Linked DNA regions of Homo sapiens: regions 1 and 3 are each linked to region 2. The links come from fine-mapping of genetic effects on gene expression. A gene starts in region 2. Each other region holds a variant in brackets. All regions are shown on one strand. Distances are between the middles of the regions.

The links.
Region 1: its variant is fine-mapped to the expression of COX19 in whole blood (TOPMed, PIP 0.98).
Region 3: its variant is fine-mapped to the expression of COX19 in whole blood (TOPMed, PIP above 0.99).

What each region holds. Positions count from the first base shown.
Region 1 is chr7:946,119-951,865 of GRCh38, forward strand. The region is part of intron 1 of ADAP1 (ArfGAP with dual PH domains 1); the gene reads right to left. Among named protein-coding and RNA genes, the nearest start is that of ADAP1, 5.7 kb to the right of the region's middle. RefSeq lists enhancers at 1-306, 2,792-3,437, 3,438-4,082. The variant C/T (reference allele first, on the strand shown) is at 2,554.
Region 2 is chr7:973,403-979,149 of GRCh38, forward strand. COX19 (cytochrome c oxidase assembly factor COX19) reads right to left here and starts at 2,147. Exons shown (of 3, transcript NM_001031617.3): 1 at 2,026-2,147. The coding sequence starts at 2,107. It also overlaps a transcript of CHLSN not described here. RefSeq lists enhancers at 1,370-2,252, 1,552-1,621, 2,253-3,133 and silencers at 1,862-2,021, 2,042-2,321.
Region 3 is chr7:935,995-941,741 of GRCh38, forward strand. All of the region lies in intron 1 of ADAP1 (ArfGAP with dual PH domains 1), which reads right to left. Among named protein-coding and RNA genes, the nearest start is that of ADAP1, 16 kb to the right of the region's middle. RefSeq lists a silencer at 961-1,010. The variant C/G (reference allele first, on the strand shown) is at 3,205.

The sequences.
Region 1 (5,747 bases), 27 kb before region 2:
GCATGCATGGCTGTCCCCCAGGCACACAGCGCCCCACTCCACGCCGGGACCCAGGCCCCTCTCCAACTCCACCTCCGTGTTTTCCGCATATTGTCTCCCAGTTACCCGTGGCCCCTGCAGGGATCCAGGCTCCCGCCGGCCGGTGGATCCCCGCCAGCGAGGCAGTGACCTCTGGAGCTCCTGGGTGGGCTGGCAGCCCACACCTCCTCTCTGCCCAGGCCCCAGGCCCCCACCCCCTCACGCTCACGGGCGGCCCTGGTCCCATTCCATTGTGAGGATGGGGCCCTTTGGCCCTAGGAACAGGCCCTCCCAGGACCCAGATCCGCTGGCCCCTACCCGGTTCAGGGACACGTGCCCCTCTCCTGGATCCCTCCCAGCAGCACCCGGACACAGTCCATTTTCAGAATCCCCCAAGGACCCCCCCAGGCTCTGCCCTGCCCCTGCCCTCCCACCCTCTCTCCCTCCTGGTGCTCCAGCCCCATGGCGGGAACCCCACGGTGAAGGCCATCCCCAGTCCTCCCTGGACCCACCCTGTCCCGGAGCCCACTCTCTGGGGCCCCCACCCCGCGCCCCTCCAGGCTCTTCAGGGCCCTCGCACAGGGCCGACTCCTCTGCGGCCCATCTGGTCTCTCGGCTGTCAAACCCTATTTTTGGAACTCGATAGAGGTGGTGGTTGAACAGCATGGAGAACGTTCTAAATGCCACTGAATTTTCACTTTGAAATGATTAACCTGAGGCCGGGCGGGGCGGCTCACGCCTGCAATCTCAGCACCTGGAGAGGCCAAGGTGAACGGGTGGAGCCCAGGAGTTCGAGACCAGCCTGGGCAACATAGTGAGACACCGCGACTCCATCCTTATGAAAAAATTTTCTATAAAAGGTTAATTTTTCATATGAATTGCACCTCGATTTGGGGTTTTGTTTTTTTTCATTTTTTGTTTTTTTGAGAGAGGGTCTCTGTCACTCAGGCTGGAGTGCAGTGGTGCGATCATGGTTCACTGCAGCCTCGGCCTCCTGGGCTCAGGTAATCCTCCCACCTCAGCTTCCTGAGTAGCTGGGACCACAGGTGTGCACCACCACATCTGGCTGATTTTTTGGTTTTTTTTTTTTTTTTTTTTTTTTAGAGATGGGGGTCTCACCATGTTGGCCAGGCTGACCTTGAACTCCTGGGCTCAAGCGATCCTCCCACCTCAGCCTCCCAAAGTGCTGGGATCACAGGTGTGAGCCACCGCGCCTGACCTTGATTTTTTAAAAAAGGAGAGAGAGAGACATTCACACACTGGCAACCCCTGTCTCTAGCTCGGGCCTCTTTCCTCCAGAGCTGCCCGTGTGGCTGCTGTCCCCTTGGCGGCCACCGTGGCTTCTCACAGAGCCTCACATCGCAGGTCCCTCCCGTCTCCCTGGACACTGCTCCCACGTCCCCATCTCAGCGAGTGAGGTGCTGGCTAAAGGCCTGGGTGTCCTCATTTCTACTCTGCCCACCACACCCCGACATCCCGTTGACCAGCAAATATTTCAAGACGATCCAGGCTTTGACCCTCCCCACACTCACGCCCCGCCCTAGGCCTAGCCACCGCCACCCGGCCTCGGTCACTGCAGCAGCGTCCCACCCACCTCCCGCTCCCGCGCTGGCCCTACCTGCCCTGGACCCTGTGACGCGTCGTGGGCTGGGACACTCCTCGGCTCACAGAATTCCCATGGTTCCCATCCCACCCAGAGTCACAGCGCAGCCCTCACAGCGTCCCCCAGCCCTGCGTGGCCCCACAGCCACCTCTGACCCCGTCTCCCCGCCCTGGCTCTGGGCACACTGGCCTCCTCACTTCTCCTTTGACCTGCGAGGTGCACGGCTGCCCCCACCCCCGACACCACCAGCCCCTTTACCCCACTCCCTCTTCCGGAGGGGCCGTCTCCCTCCTCCACTGAGGACCCAGCACTGCCAGGGACCTGCTCCTCACCCCACACCTTGGCCACCCCACGGCCTGCCCTGAACCCACTCTATTCCAGCTGGGCCTTTCCCGCTCACAACCCCCGAGCCCCAGCCCCCATCCTGAATCTGCAGGACCTGACCCAGCCATGTCTGTCCCTCCCTCCTCACCCCATGTCTGCCCTGCCCCCTTGCCCGGGTGGGATCCCAGGTCCATCAGTGCAATGCCCTCTGCCCCTCACCCCTCCCTCCATCATTCAGTACGGAGCCCACCTCTGTACCCACCGAGGCCTGAGCTTCTGAATGGAACACGCCCTGCAGAAGCGCTCCATGGTGGCCCGAGTTTCGGCTTCCCTCCCCGCCGGCCCATGGCCTGGCCTCGTCCTCCATGAGGAAAACAGTCACTTCCAAAGCCTTCCCCTGCATGCCAGGCCGAGCTCCCACTGCAGGTCTCTGCCCCGGTCTTAGCAGAACTTCTCCAAATGCATCTCCAGGTGCCACGACCCCCTCTGGCCTCTCATTCACCTGCTAAGCTGTCACCACCACCACCTGGACAGTGACTTGGGGTCAGTTTGCTCCTCCCTGACCCACCTCCCAGCCCATAGGTGCCCAGTACTCCTTCCTGAAAACG[C/T]GTTTACGGGGCATCCAAGATTCTATGTCCTTTTTTTTCCCTTGAGACAGAATATCACTCTGTCGCCCAGGCTGGAGTGCAGTGGCATGATCTCGGCTCTCTGCAACCTCTGCCTACCAGGTTCGAGCGATTCTCCCACCTCAACCTCCCGAGTAGCTGGGATTTCAGGCGTGCGCCACCACACCCAACTAATTTTTGTATTTTTAGTAGAGATGGGGTTTCACCATGTTGGCCAGGATGGTCCTGATCTCCTGACCTCGTGATCCTCCCGCCTCAGCCTCCCAAAGTGCTGGGATTACAGGCGTGAGCCACCATGCCCGGCCCTCACTCACAATTCTTACTCTACCCTCGGCCCTCCTTGTCCCCAAGTGCCATCACCATCTGTCTGTCTTTGTCTCCCCACCAAGGAACAGCAGATGCTGAGAGTGAAGGGCTGGTCTGGTCCGGTCTCCCTGAGCCCCAGTGACTGCACAGGGCAAGGCACTCAGTACATGTGTACGGAGCGGGGGAAGGCGCCTTGCCCGCCGGAGTCCAGGGTAGGGCACCACTGGAGTTCAGCCCTTGTGGGCCTCTGCCTCCCCCGGGCACATGAGCACATACCTCCTGGCCACACGGCCACGTGCCGCCTCAGCCACCTTGGACCCCACCAAGTCCCTTCCTGTTTCCTCATTCTTTCATTTGCAAAATGGGGCCATGCAGCCACCTGACGGGTGACGGGAGAAGCAGTTGGGGGATGCGGCTGGCTGCCAGGTACTGCCACAGAGCAAGGCTTGGCAAATGCCTCTGAGTCTAAAACGGCAGTGGCCTAGGAGCACAGGGCCTGGGGGCAGGGGCAGTGCCACACCTAACCTGAGATATGTCCAGAGCTGAGGTCTAGCTCACAGCATCTGTGCGTCGGGGAAGCTGGCTGCGGTCACGGCCGGTGCAGCGGCCCAAGGAGTCCACAAAGCAGTAACCTTGGCCCACACCACAGCTCCGGTGCATTTGGAGAGGGGGCCCAGTCTAGGCTGAAGTTGGGGGGAGCCTGGCCAGGGCCTGGGCACCAGGCGCAGGACAGAGGGAAAGGCCTCCAGCTCCTCCCAGCCCTGAGTGCCAGCTCATCGCCCACACCAGCCCTCCACACCCGGCCACAGGGCAGGCAGGCAGGAAGCGGGCACGTGTGACCTGCTGGCCTGTGGCTTGAGTGCAAAACCAGGTAGGGGAAACCTGTCTAGCAGTTCTTCAACCAGGTAAGCACAGAATCGCCATGGGACCCAGCAACTCCAGTCCTGGGTACAGACCCAAACAACCTGAAGCAGGGTCTCAGAGAGACATCTGCACCCTCGTGCTCACACAGCACGATTCACAATGGCCCAGAGGTGGGAGCAGCCCAGTGTCCGCCTGCAGACAAACGGGCACACGCAATGTGGTTCATCCACACAGGGTATGATCCTGTCTTCACATGCAGGGAAATCCCAGCACTCGCCACAGCATCTGTGAACCTGGAGACGTTAGACTGAGTGAAACTGGCCAGTCACAAAAGAATGAATACCAGCCGGGCATGGTGGCTCACACCTGTAATCCCAGCACTTCGGGAGGCCGAGGCAGGCGGATCACAAGGTCAGGAGATCGAGACCGTCCTGGCTAACGTGGTGAAACCCCATCTCTACTAAAAATACAGAAAACTTAGCCGGGCATGGCAGCGTGCACCTGTAGTCCCAGCTACTCGGGAGGCTGAGGCAGGAGAATGGCATGAGCCTGGGAGGCGGAGCTTGCAGTGAGCTGAGAAGGTGCCACTGCACTCCAGCCTGGGCGACAGAATGAGACTCTGCCTCAAAAAAAAAAAAAAAAAAAAATGAATACCGCATGGTTTCACTTCTACAAGGTCCCTGGAGTCATAAGATTCATAGAGACAGAAAGTTGAGGCCAGGCACGGTGGCTCATGCCTGTAATCCCAGCCATTTGGGAGGCCAAGTTGGGAGGATGACCTGAGGTCAGGAGTTCAAGACCAGCCTGGCCAACATGGCGAAACCCTGTCTCTACCAAAAATACAAAAATTAGCCGGGCGTGGTGGCAGGCGCCTGTAATCCCAGCTACTCAGGGGACTGAGGCAGGAGAATCGTTTGAACCCAGGAGGCAGAGGTTGCAGTGAGCTGAAATGGCGCCACTGCATTCCAGCCTTGGGAACAGAGCAAGACTCCGTCTCAAAAAAAAAAAAAAAAAAAAAACAAGAAAAGAACAGAAAGTAGAAGGGTGGGTGCCCCGGACTGGGGAGAGGAAATCTGGAGCCCTTGTTGAATGGGGACAGAGCTTCAGTTTGGGAAGATGAGGAGGTTCTGGAGATGATGGTGGTGGCGGTGGCACGGTGAGTGAACGTGCTCAAGGCCCTGGAACTGTGCACTCGAAACGATGAGAAGGTAAATTATTATTTTTAAAAAATCCGGCCAGGCGCGGTGGCTCATGCCTGGAATCCCAGCACTTTGGGAGGCCGAGGCGGGTGGATCACGAGGTCAGGAGACGGAGACCATCCTGGCTAACATGGTGAAACCCCATCTCTACTAAAAATACAAAAATTAGCCGGGCGTGGTGGCGGGTGCCTGTAGTCCCAGCTACTCGGGAGGCTGAGGCAGGAGAATGGTGTGAACCTGGGAGGGGGAGCTTGCAGTGAGCCGAGATCGCACCACTGCAGTCCAGCCTGGGCGACAGAGCGAGACTCCGTCTCAAAAAAAAAAAAAAATATCCAACCTAGTTGGGCCGCTGCCCTGGGGAGTGAAGGGAGTCTGCCCAGCCCCCGCCCACACTCAGCAGCCTTCTTCCCACCCTCACCCATGCCGGCCAAATTCCTGAAACTGGGAGTTGGAGGTTGCAGTGAGCAAAGATCGTGCCACTGCACTGTAGCCTGGGTGACATCGAGAGACTGTCTTAAAAAAAAAAATTAGCTGGGCATGGTGGCATGGACCTGTAGTCCCAGCTACTCAGGAGGCTGAGGTGGGAGGATTGCTTGAGCCCTGGAGGCAGAGGCTGCAGTGAGTTGAGATTGTGCCACTGCACTCCAGCCTGGGTGACAGAGCGAGACCTTAAAATAAAAAAGAACAAAAGAGCTCAGACACCCCAGTCCTTCCGGGGCATCAGATGGCCTGAGACTCAAAGAGGACAATATGTGTGTTTTTCTTTTTTTTGAGACAGGGTCTCACTCTGGCCTAGGCTGGAGTGTG
Region 2 (5,747 bases):
CGGGCGCAGTGGTTCACACCTGTAATCCCAGCACTCTGAGAGGATCACCTGACCCCAGGAGTTTGAGACCAGCCTGGGCAACACAGTGAGACCCCCATCTCTACCAAAAAAAACCTTAAAAGTTAGCTAGGTGTGGCGCACGTCTGTGGTTCCAGCTACTCAGGAGGCTGAGGCAGGAAGATCGCTTGAGCAAAGGATTTCGAGGCTGCAGTGAGCTTGATCACACCACTGCACTCCAGCCTGGGCAACAGATCAAGACCTTGTCTCCTAAAAATAATCCAGGCTGGGCACGGTGGCTCACGCCTGTAATCCTAGCACTTTGGGAGGCAGAGGTGGGCGGATCACCTGAGGTCAGGAGTTCAAGACCAGCTCGGCCAACTTGGTGAAACCCCATCTCTATTAAAAATACAAAAATTAGCCGGGCATGGTGGCGGGTGTCTGTAGTCCCAGCTACTCGGGAGGCTGAGGCAGGAGAATTGCTTGAACCCAGGAAGCGGAGGTTGCAGCGAGTCGAGATCACACCACTGCACTCCAGCCTGGGTGACAGAGTGAGACTCCATTTCAAAAATAAATAAATAAATGATCCAGCCTGGTCAACATGGGGAAACTCCATCTTTAAAATAAAAAATAAAAAAACAATAATAATTAGCTGGGTGTGGTGTTGCACACCTATAGTCCCAGCTACTCTAGAGGCTGAGACAGGAGAATCGCTTGAACCCGGGAGGAGGAGGTTGCAGTGAGTCGAGATCACACCACTGCACTCCAGCCTGGGCGACACAGTGAGAGTCCATTTCAAAAATAAATAAATAAATAATCCAGCCTGGGCAACATGGGGAAACCCCATCTCTAAAAAAAAAAAAAAAAAAAAAATTAGCTGGGTGTGGCGCTGCACACCTATAGTCCCAGCTACTCTAGAGGATGAGACGGGAGACTCCCCTGAGTCCAGAAAGGAAGGAGGCCGAGGCTTCAGTGAGCTATGATTGCACCACTGCACTCCAGCCTAAGCAACAGAGTGAGACCGTGTCTCAAAACAAAAACAATCAAACCCAAACTTGTTTCCTTCATAAACATGCTGAAAACAACAATGGAAAAAACCCACAACGAGGTAAAGTCAGCCCAGTACGAGGTTAAGGTGCAATGTAGGTGATGGTCACAGGAGAGTTCAGGGTAAAAATTCTTTCATTTTTGCTATTTGAAAATGTCACAATAAAATGTTGGGAAAGAAACAGTAATTCACAGATCGTTTTTCTTTTCTTTTCTTTCTTTTTTTTTTTGAGACGTTGTCTCACTCTGTCGCCCAAGCTGCAGTGCAGTGGCCCGATCTCGGCTCACTGCAACCTCCGTCTCCCGGTTCAAGCGATTCTCCTGCCTCAGCCTCCCGAGTAGCTGGGACTACAGGCGAGCCACATCACACCCAACTAATTTTTGTATTTTTAGTAGAGACGGGGTTTCCCCATGTTGGGCAGGCTGGTCTCGAACTCCTGATCTTAAATGATCCGCCCACCTCGGCCTCCCAAAGGGCTGGGATCACAGGCATGAGCCACCGCGCCCGGCCCACAGATCCTTTTTCGAAGCCTTCATGTCCACGGAGGCAACCCCACCGGAATACGGCCAGAAGCACTGGGAGATCAGCAGCACTTTTGAGCTTTGCAGCAGACATCGCTAGGCACCGTCTAAGCCTCGGCTGCAGCTGCGGGCTTCGTGGCCGCCGAATGCCCCGCTCTGCAAACCCGGGGCACAGACAGCCCGCCGGGTGAGTCAGGGCGGAGCCGGAGACCCGGAAGCCTGACGCAAGGAGTCGGTGTCGCTGCCCTCGTCACGGGGGCCACGGTCCTGCCAGCTCCCACCTGCAGGGTCCATGCCGCAGCAGTGACCCAGGGCTGGGTGGGGCGGAGGGGCGGGCCGCCGTGCCTCAGTTTCCCCGCCTGCACCGCGCTAGATGCCGGCACCCCATAGGGCTCCGCGCTGGGCCGCGACCCAGACCCCCCATCGCAGACCCCTGCCCGCCGACCTTCCGCCGCTCACCTAAGTGATCCAGCGGGAAGCTGCCCTTGTCCGGGGGCCGCGGCTGGAAGCTCTTGGTCCCGAAATTCATGGCGGTCGACATGTTGGCGACTCCGGAGTCTGCGAGCGCCTTGCGAGCGTACGCAGGGCGGCCGGCGGAGCGCCGAGCAGGCACCCCGGGAGCGCCGAGCACGTCGAGCAGGCCCCGTCCCCGCCCCTTGCCCAGGCCCGGCCCCACCCCTTGCCCAGGCCCGGCCCCACCCCCTCGGAGTCAGCAAGCTCCTGAGCCCCGGTGGGCGCTGCCCGGGCTTTCCCGTCCCCTGGGACCCTCACAGCAGTCGGTAGCAGAATCAGCTTTTGGAATTGGTGAGAAACCGAGGCCCAGAAAGGTTCAGCGAATTGCCCGAGGACACATAGCGGTGCCGGCGTCTCTGCATCCCAGGTGTCTGCTGGGGCCTCGGTTTCCCCATCGCACAGAGACCTCATCACGGGGCCCATCCGGGGAGGAAGGCGGCACAGGAGGGACAGGAGAGCCTGTGGACTCGCTGCCTGCGGCTGCTGGAGCCAGGTGACACCACCGAGCAGCTTCAACAACAGGAATGTGCTCTCAGTCCTGGGGTCTGGAGTCCAAGCAGTGGGCAGAGTGGGGGCCCTGGGGACAGTCCCAGCCTCCCAGCTTCTGGGGGCCGCCAGCCTGTGAGGTTCCTTGGCTTGCAGAAGCACCACCTGGTCTCGGCCCCTACGTTCCCATGGTGTCCTGCGCATGTCCAAATTTACTATTTTTATTTATTTATTTGAGACAGGGTATTGCTCTGTTGCCCAGACTAGAGTGCAGTGGCATGATCACGACTCACTGCAGCCTCGACCTCCTGGGCTCAGCGATCCTCTCACCCCAGCCTCCTGAGTAGCTGCGACCACAGGCACACACCACCACACCAGGCTAATTTTTCTATTTTTCGTAGAGATGGAGTCTCCCTATGTTGCCCAGGCTGGTCCTTAACTCCTGGGCTCAGGCAATCCTCCTGCCTCAGCCTCCCTAAATGCCGGGATTATAGGCATGAGCCACCATGCCCAACCTAAATTTCCTCTTTTTATAAGGATAGCAGTCATGTTGGGTTAGGGGCCGTCCCAATAACTTCATCTTAACTAATTATATCAGCAGCAACCCTATTTCTTTGTTTTGTTTTTTAAAACGGAGTCTCTCTCTTGTTGCCCAGGCTGGAGTACAGTGGCTCGATCCTGGCTCATTGCAACCTCCACCTCCCAGGTTAAAGCAATTCTCCTGCCTCAGCCTCCCGAGTAGCTGGGATTACAGGCGCCACCAACACACCCAGCTAAGCTAATATATTTTTTTTCAACACAGAGTCTCACTTTGTAACCTAGACGGGCGTGCAGTGGTACGATCTCGGCTCACCGCAACCTCCACTTCCCGAGTTCAAGAGATTCTCCTGCCTCAGCCTCCAGAGTAGCTGGGATTACAGGCATGCGCCACCACACCCGGCTAATTTTTTGTACTTTTCGTAGAGACGGGGTTTCACCATGTTGCCCAGGCTGGTCTCGAACTCCTGACCTTAAGTGATCCGCCCACTTCAGCCTCCCAAAGGGCTGGGATGACAGGCGTGAGCCGCCGCACCTGGCACCTATTTCCAAAGCAAAGGTCACATCCTAAGGTCCTAGTGGCTTCACCATACGAATGGGGGTGGAGGGTAGTTACAGCTCAACCTAGGGCAGAATGAAAGTGTACTGTAAGCGGTAAGGCCCGGCCTTTGCGTGTCGATGTTGTCATGGCAACAGCAGTCGTGGGAAAGGGCTCAGTGAAGACCCCAGCGTCCACCCGCGGAGTCTCTCCCAGCCCTGAACCTGTACCCACATGCCCTGGCCATGAGGAAGTCGAACACTGGCCCGTTTAGAGCACCATGGGCGGCCCAAGCTCCAGCCTCCACTCACTCATCCATCCCACCCATTTCACAATCACTGGCCAGGCCTTCGTGGTAAGCACAGTGGGTCCCCAGCAACACCGAGTTCGCTGCCTGGCCCCCCGCTCTGGACCCTGGTGACACCTGAACCCACTGTTGCTTAGGAGCCAGTTCCTGCAACTTCCCAGGGGTTGTTTGCAGACAAGGGCTTGGTCAAGGCGGCCCAACAGCCCCCACCCCGGGGCCTGCCCTTCTTCAAGCCTGGCCCAGGCGTCCCCTCCCCATGAGGCTTCCAGCTCTCCCCCTTGCTGGGCCCTGGTGAGCCCGCCCCTCTGCAACGCACACCATTAGATTCCTGCGCCCAAGGTCGGACTCTGCTCTGTGTGCCCAGAGCTGAGCCGCGAGTCTGGCACTGAATGTTTCTGAACCGCAGGGCAGTGGGGACCTCAGGCCAAGGCCCCAAGGAGGGCCCAGGGCTGCAGAAATCTAGTTGTCAGGGCCTTGATTGGCCTGTGGCTCTGGGCCCACTGAAAACTACAAAAGGAAAATTGCAGCTTGTTCCTGTCATATAAACAACTCTTTTTACCCGGTTAGAACCAGGGGCCCACACACTGGGTTACTCATTAATACGTTTCCAGGGCTGTGAACAATGGGAGCTTTTATTACCCAGCAAAGAAGCGCTCACTCACTTGACTGCAGCAGCCGCTTAGCAGTGGAAGGACAGCCCCTCCGTTGGGGCTGCCCTAAGCCTCTCTGTCTGGGAGCCCCGAGGGACCTGTGGCCTGGAGGTGACAACCGGCTTTTAATTGACTGTCACCTGGCAAATGATTATTGCTTTATATGAGATCTTTAGCTGGGAGAGAAGAGGAAAGAATTTTTATGAGCAGTTCACCGGTGTAAAAAGTGGGGAAGGGGCTGGGGGCGGTGGCTCACACCTGTAATCCCAACACTCTGGGAAGCCGAGGTGGGCGGACCACTTGAGCCCAGGAGTTTGAGACCAGCCTTGGCAACATGCTGAAACCCTACGTCTATAAAAAATACAAAAATTAGCCAGGTGTAGGGGCGCACACCTGTGGTCCCAGCTACCCCAGAGGCTGAGGTGGGAGGATCGTCTGAGCCCTGGGAGGTCGAGGCTGCAGTGAACCAAGATCGCACCACTGCACTGCAGCCTGGGCAAAAAAGTGAGACCTTGTCTACAAGAAAAAAGGAAAAGCTCAGAGGAGGGAACGAACCTTGTTTGAGCCCCAGCAATCAAGGTATTGCAGGTATTTCCACCCGGATCCCCAGAGCCTGGAGCAGTGCCTGGCACGCTGGACATGCTCCGTTTATAGCTCGAAGATGAATGAATCCAGCTAAGTAGGTCTTATTATCCTCATCTGACACAGAGAAACAGACTCAAGGGGTCACAGCCCTTGCTGAAGCTTACGTGGCCGTGTTCGCGTTATCTGCCGCTGCATAACAAAGCACCCCAAGCTTAGCAGCAGTCATTACCCGTGAACTTGCACTTGCACTTGGGCAGGGCTTGGTGGAGACATTCCACGAGGCCTGGGCCGGGTTAGCTCCACTTCGGACTGGAGGATCCACTCACGATGGCACACGTGGCTGGCAGGCAGGTGGGCTCAGTGTCATGTGGAAGCCTGGCCACGGTTCCGTGGGCCTGGGTTCCCCTCCACATGGGCCCCTCTACGAGCTGCTGGGCTTCCCCACAGCATGGCGGCTGGGTCCACGGCACAGGTGTCCTGGGGAACCAAGAGGAAGCTGCATCACTGTTTGGGATCCAGCCTCCACTGTGACCACAAGTGCCCACCCAGATTCAAGGAGTCAACT
Region 3 (5,747 bases), 37 kb before region 2:
ACGGATGGTAGCCGCGGATGACGACGCACCCTGCGTGGGGTGACAGCGCCCGGCGGCCACTAACTTTGCAGGTGTGACAGCGGCGCTGTGGCTTCACCCTGCATGTGGCCTGTCTAGGGATTCCACGTCTCGATGTCTGGTTTGCCTTAAAAGGTCCAACAAAGCTGGACACAGTGGCTCAGGCCCGTAATCCCAGCGCTTTGGGAGGCTGAGGGAGCAGAATTTTTTTTGAGACATAGTCTGTTGCCCAGGCTGGAGTATGATGGCACGATCTCGGCTCGCTGCAACCTCTGCCTCCCGGGTTCAAGCGATTCTCCTGCCTTAGCCTCCCGAGTAGCGAGGCACGCACCACCATGCCCGGCTAACTTTTGTATTTTTAGTGGAGATGGGGTTTCATCATGTTGGCCAGGCTGGCCTCGAACTCTTGACCTCAAGTAATCCACCTGCTCGGCCTCCCAAAGTGCTGGGATGACAGGCGTGAGCCACTGCCCAGGGTGTGGGTGCCACAGCGCAGTCTTTCTGCTGCTGCACGTGTGAAATGTCTCATTCTGAAACGGCAAAATGTGGGGAGCGTCCAGCCCCGCCCTGGGGCGATGGCTAAGAGGGCTGCTGTGTGACTCTCCTGTTTTCTTCTGGCTCCCAACGACCCTTCACAATAAGTCAAGGGAGTGGAATGGCTGAAAGGCACCCTAGAGAGAACAGTCTCTCTGGGGGAGATGAGTCATCTCTGAACTGCTTTTATTTTTAAGTGGAGGCTCTCCTGGGTGAGGCTGGTGGAAATCGAGGCGCTTCCCCACAAGCAGGTGCGGCTGTGGACCCAAGCCTGTTTGGGGAATCATGAGTGGAGAGGACCCCACCCTTCAGGCCTGGCGGAGGATAGCCCCCCTCCCAACGCTGATCGGGGCCCACCCCTGGCTGGTGGGGGACTCCCATGCCAGGCGGCGGAGGCCCAGTGGGGCTGGGGCTGGGCCTGGGCTCTGAGTCACTGCCAGGAGGAGAGGCACCCAAGTGAGCCCCCGGCCGGGGATGGTGCGTGAGAACCAGCAGGCTGAACCTCGGATTTGGGGGTCATGCCCGGCCTCTGGGATTTGGGGGTCACGCCGGGCCTCGGATTTGGGGGTCACGCCCGACCTCTGGGATTTGGGGGTCACGCCCGGCCTCTGGGATTTGGGGGTCACGCCCGACCTCTGGGATTTGGGGGTCACGCCCGACCTCTGGGATTTGGGGGTCACGCCCGGCCTCTGGGATTTGGGGGTCACGCCCGACCTCTGGGATTTGGGGGTCATGCCTGGCCTCTGGGATTTGGGGGTCATGCCTGGCCTCTGGGATTTGGGGGTCACGCTGCACATCTGGGATTTGGGGGTCACGCCGGGCCTCTGGGATTTGGGGGTCACGCCCGACCTCTGGGATTTGGGGGTCACGCCCGGCCTCTGGGATTTGGGGGTCACGCCCGACCTTTGGGATTTGGGGGTCATGCCCGGCCTCTGGGATTTGGAGGTCATGCCCGGCCTCTGGGATTTGGAGGTCATGCCCGACCTCTGGGATTTGGGGGTCACGCCCGGCCTCTGGGATTTGGGGGTCACGCCCGACCTCTGGGATTTGGGGGTCACGCCCGGCCTCTGGGATTTGGGGGTCACGCCCGACCTCTGGGATTTGGGGGTCATGCCCGGCCTCTGGGATTTGGGGGTCATGCCCGGCCTCTGGGATTTGGGGGTCATGCCCGACCTCTGGGATTTGGGGGTCATGCCCGGCCTCTGGGATTTGGGGGTCACGCTGCACATCTGGGATTTGGGGGTCATGCCCGGCCTCTGGGATTTGGGGGTTTTCTGTCACAGCTGTTAGGCTCCCTGATTAATGAAGCCTGTCTCCCCATTAACGTGGGCTTCTTGAGGACCCCAGACCCAGCACCCCCGGATCTGGCACAGAGCTCAGTCCGGAGCAGGTCTCCACGGGAGTCATGAATGAAGGGGCCACTAACAGCCCTACTTCAGCAGAGCCCCTGTCTTCGAGAGAGACCACAGGCTTTCTCCTCACCCCTCAGTCAGTCAAACATTTGCCCAAGTGACCCTGTCTCGGGTACCAGGAGTTTTGCCTGTGCTGAGTAGGGCGGCTTTTGGGAGAAAGAATGCGGTTACAGGATCAGCCGTTGTTTGGTTTTGCGGGGTTTTTTTTGTCTTGTATTGTATTGTTTTGTTTTGAGACAGGGTCTTGCCCTGTTGCCCAAGGTGGAGTGCAGTGGTGCAATCACAGCTCACAGCTCACTGCAGCCTCCAACGCCTGGGCTCAAGCGATCCTCCTGCCTCAGCCTTCCAAGTAGCTGGGACCGCAGGCATGCACCAGCATACCCAGCTAATTTTTAAAATTTTTGGTAGAGATGAAGTCTCTCTATGTTGCCCAGCTTGGGCTTGAACTCCTGGGCTCAAGCGATCCTCCTGTCTTGGCCTCCTAAAGTGTTGGGATTACAGATGTGTGACGCCGTGTCTGGCCTGCAAAGTATTTAGTTACACACACCCCTGGAGAACAGGTGGGGAAGAACCACACTGAAGTCCCAGAAGAGAGAGACCTGACTCCCCCCGGGCTCCGTCTTCTCCCGAAGCCTTGGTGAAAGATGCCGCAAATGCTCGGTACGTGGCTGTGCGAGGGGCGCCCAGAAGGCACGCCAGTCTCCGGGCCTCGGTCTCCTCATCTGTCGGATGGGACAGCACGAGCCACTTACAGGGGTAGCAGGCAACATGAGCCCAGCTGGGAACATCACCGCTCGGGGTGCAGTGGGGGGCCCTCCTTCTCACCGCATGGCAATGCTGTTGGTTCTGCTCCGACAGTGTGGACCACGGACCCAGGCTTCCTGTCTCATGGCCTTTATCTGCCCATCTAGAAATTCTGAGGGAGGCTGAGCAACGGCCACCAACAGCTCCCGCCCAGCCCAGGGTCCAGAATGCCTGTGCCCACCTCCAACCTCACTCGGGTGCTCCGGGACAGGCTGTCCCTCTCCTGGCCTGGAAGGAGGCCTGTTCACAGAACCCAGGGAGCTGGGCCTGGAAGGAGGCCTGTTCATGGAACCCGTAGCAGGAGCTGGACTCTACGGCGTGGACCAGCTGCCTGTTGTTGTAAATAAGGTGTTACTGGAACTCAGCCATGCCCATTTATGAACTGTCTATAGCTGCTTTTGTGAGCGGTCGTTGACTAGCTGTGATGGAGACTCTA[C/G]GGCCCTAAAATATTTACTGTCATTTTTGTTGTTTTTTGAGACAGAGTTTCGCTCTTGTTGTCCAGGCTGGAGTGCAATGGTGTGATCTCAGCTCACTGCAACTTCTGCCTCCCAGGTTCAAGTGATTCTCCTGCTTCAGCCTCCCGAGTAGCTGGGATTACAGGCGTGCACCACCATGCCCGGCTAATTTTCTATTTTTAGTAGAGATGTGGTTTCACCATGTTGGCCAGGCTGGTCTCAAACTCCCGACTTAGGTGATCCGCCTGCCTCGGCCTCACAAAGTGCTGGGATTACAGGCGTGAGCCACCACGCCCAGCCTACTATCTGTCTTTTTAAGAAAAAGTTTGCTGGCTGCGTGTGGTGGCTCACACCTGTAATCCCAGCACTTCGGGAGGCCAAGGCGGGTGGATCACCTGAGGTCAGGAGTGTGAGAACAGTCTGGCCAACATAGTGAAACCCCGTCTCTACTAAAAATACAAAAATTAGCCGGGCGTGGTGGCGGGTGCCTGTAATCCCAGCTACTTGGGAGGCTGAGGCAAGAGAATCACTGGAACCCGGGAGATGGAGATTGCAGTGAGCCGAGATCGTGCCACTGCACTCCAGCCTGGGCAACAGAGTGAGACTTTGTCTCAAAAAAAAAAAAAAAAGTTTGCCAATGTCTGCTTAGAGGGAAAAATGGGGGTGGCACAGATGAGTGAGCCCAAGAAGGGCTTGTAAGTAGGACTGATAGCTTACAGCCATTACTAATATAGCCTATCTTTGACAAACCAGCTACAAGTGAGGCTAAGGAGTGGTTACAACCTGTCCCGACCTCTTGCAACTGGCACAAGGTCCCCCGGTGTAAAGTTAGAGGTTGTCTGATGCAAACCTGTCACATCCTCCTTGGTATTTGTGTGTGAGCATATACATACGTGCGTGCATACCCACAGACACAACATGAACAGCCTACTGGGGAGGGCTCAGGGAGTTAAATGTGAAGAAATAGAGACACCAGCCAGGTGTGGGTGCTCACACCTGTCATCCCAGCATTTTGGGAGATTGAGGTAGGAGGATCACTTGAGCCCAGGGGTGGAGGTTGCAGTGAGCCGAGATGGCACGACTACACTCCAGCCTGGGTGTCACAGACCCTGTCACACACACACACACACACACACACACACACACACACACACACAATATGGAGACATGACCTTTTACATAAGAATCAAAAGACGAGAGCCAGTTAAATCAAGTGTGTTGGAGACAGGAGCAACACAAGGTTGTCACTGGTAGGGCAGGAAGTTTGTATCATTTTTAAAAAGCTTTTGTGGAGTTTTACTAGGATGACTAAAATTTAAAAGATGGATACTACCAAGTGTTGATGAGGATACAGAGCAAGTGGAACTCTCATCCACTGCTGGTAGAAATACAAATTAGTCCAACCCACTCTGAAAACAGCTTGGCAGTTTCTTACATAAAGATATATCTCCCATATGACACAGCCACCCTACTCCTAGGAATTTACCCAAGGGAAATCAAAATGTAGGTCCATAAAAAGATGTACATCCAACAATATATAAAAAGAGTAATACACCATGATCAACAGGGGTTTTTACCAGTAATGCAAGGTTGGTTTAACATTTGACCATCAATCAATGTCATTCACCATATTTACAGGTTAAAAAAGAAAAAACATACAATTGTTTCAATAGATGCAAAAAATGCTGGCAAAATGCAACATCCTGATAAAATTCTCAGAAAACTAAGAATAGAGGGGAATTTCCCCAATTTGATATAGAGGATTCAACAGATGCAAAAAATGTTGGCAAAACGCAACATCCTGATAAAACTCTCAGAAAACTAAGAATAGAGGGGAATTTCCCCAATTTGACATAGATGATTCAACAGATGCAAAAAATGTTGGCAAAATGCAACATCCTGATAAAACTCTCAGAAAACTAAGAATAGAGGGTAATTTCCCCAATTTGATATAGAGGATCTATGAAACATGTACAGCAAATGTCATATTCAAGGGAGAATGACTGACTGCTTTCCCCCAAGATCAAGAACAGGACAAGAATGTCTGTTCTAACCACTCCTAGTCAACGTTGAGCTAGAGATTCTAGTCAGTGCAATAAGGCAATATAAAGAAATAAAAAGCATCTAGATTGGAAAGGAAGAGCTAAAACTATCTTCATTAACAGACAACATGATTGTCTATGTAGAAAATAGAAAAGATTCTATTAAAAACAACTATGAGAACTAACAAGTTTAGCAAGGTTGAAGGATACAAGATAAATATACAAAAATCTATTGTATTTCTATACACTAGCAACAAGCATTCAGAAATTGAACATTTAAAAATACCATTTATAATAGCATAAAATGTATGAAAGAGGGATAAATGTGATGAGAAATGAAACATAGGACACTGAAAACTACAAAATATTGCTCAGAGAAATTAAAGAAGACCTACAGATTTTGGAAAGAGATAACGTTTTCGTGGGATGGGAGACTCAACATTAATAACACATATATTCTCTCCAAATTATAGATTCAATGC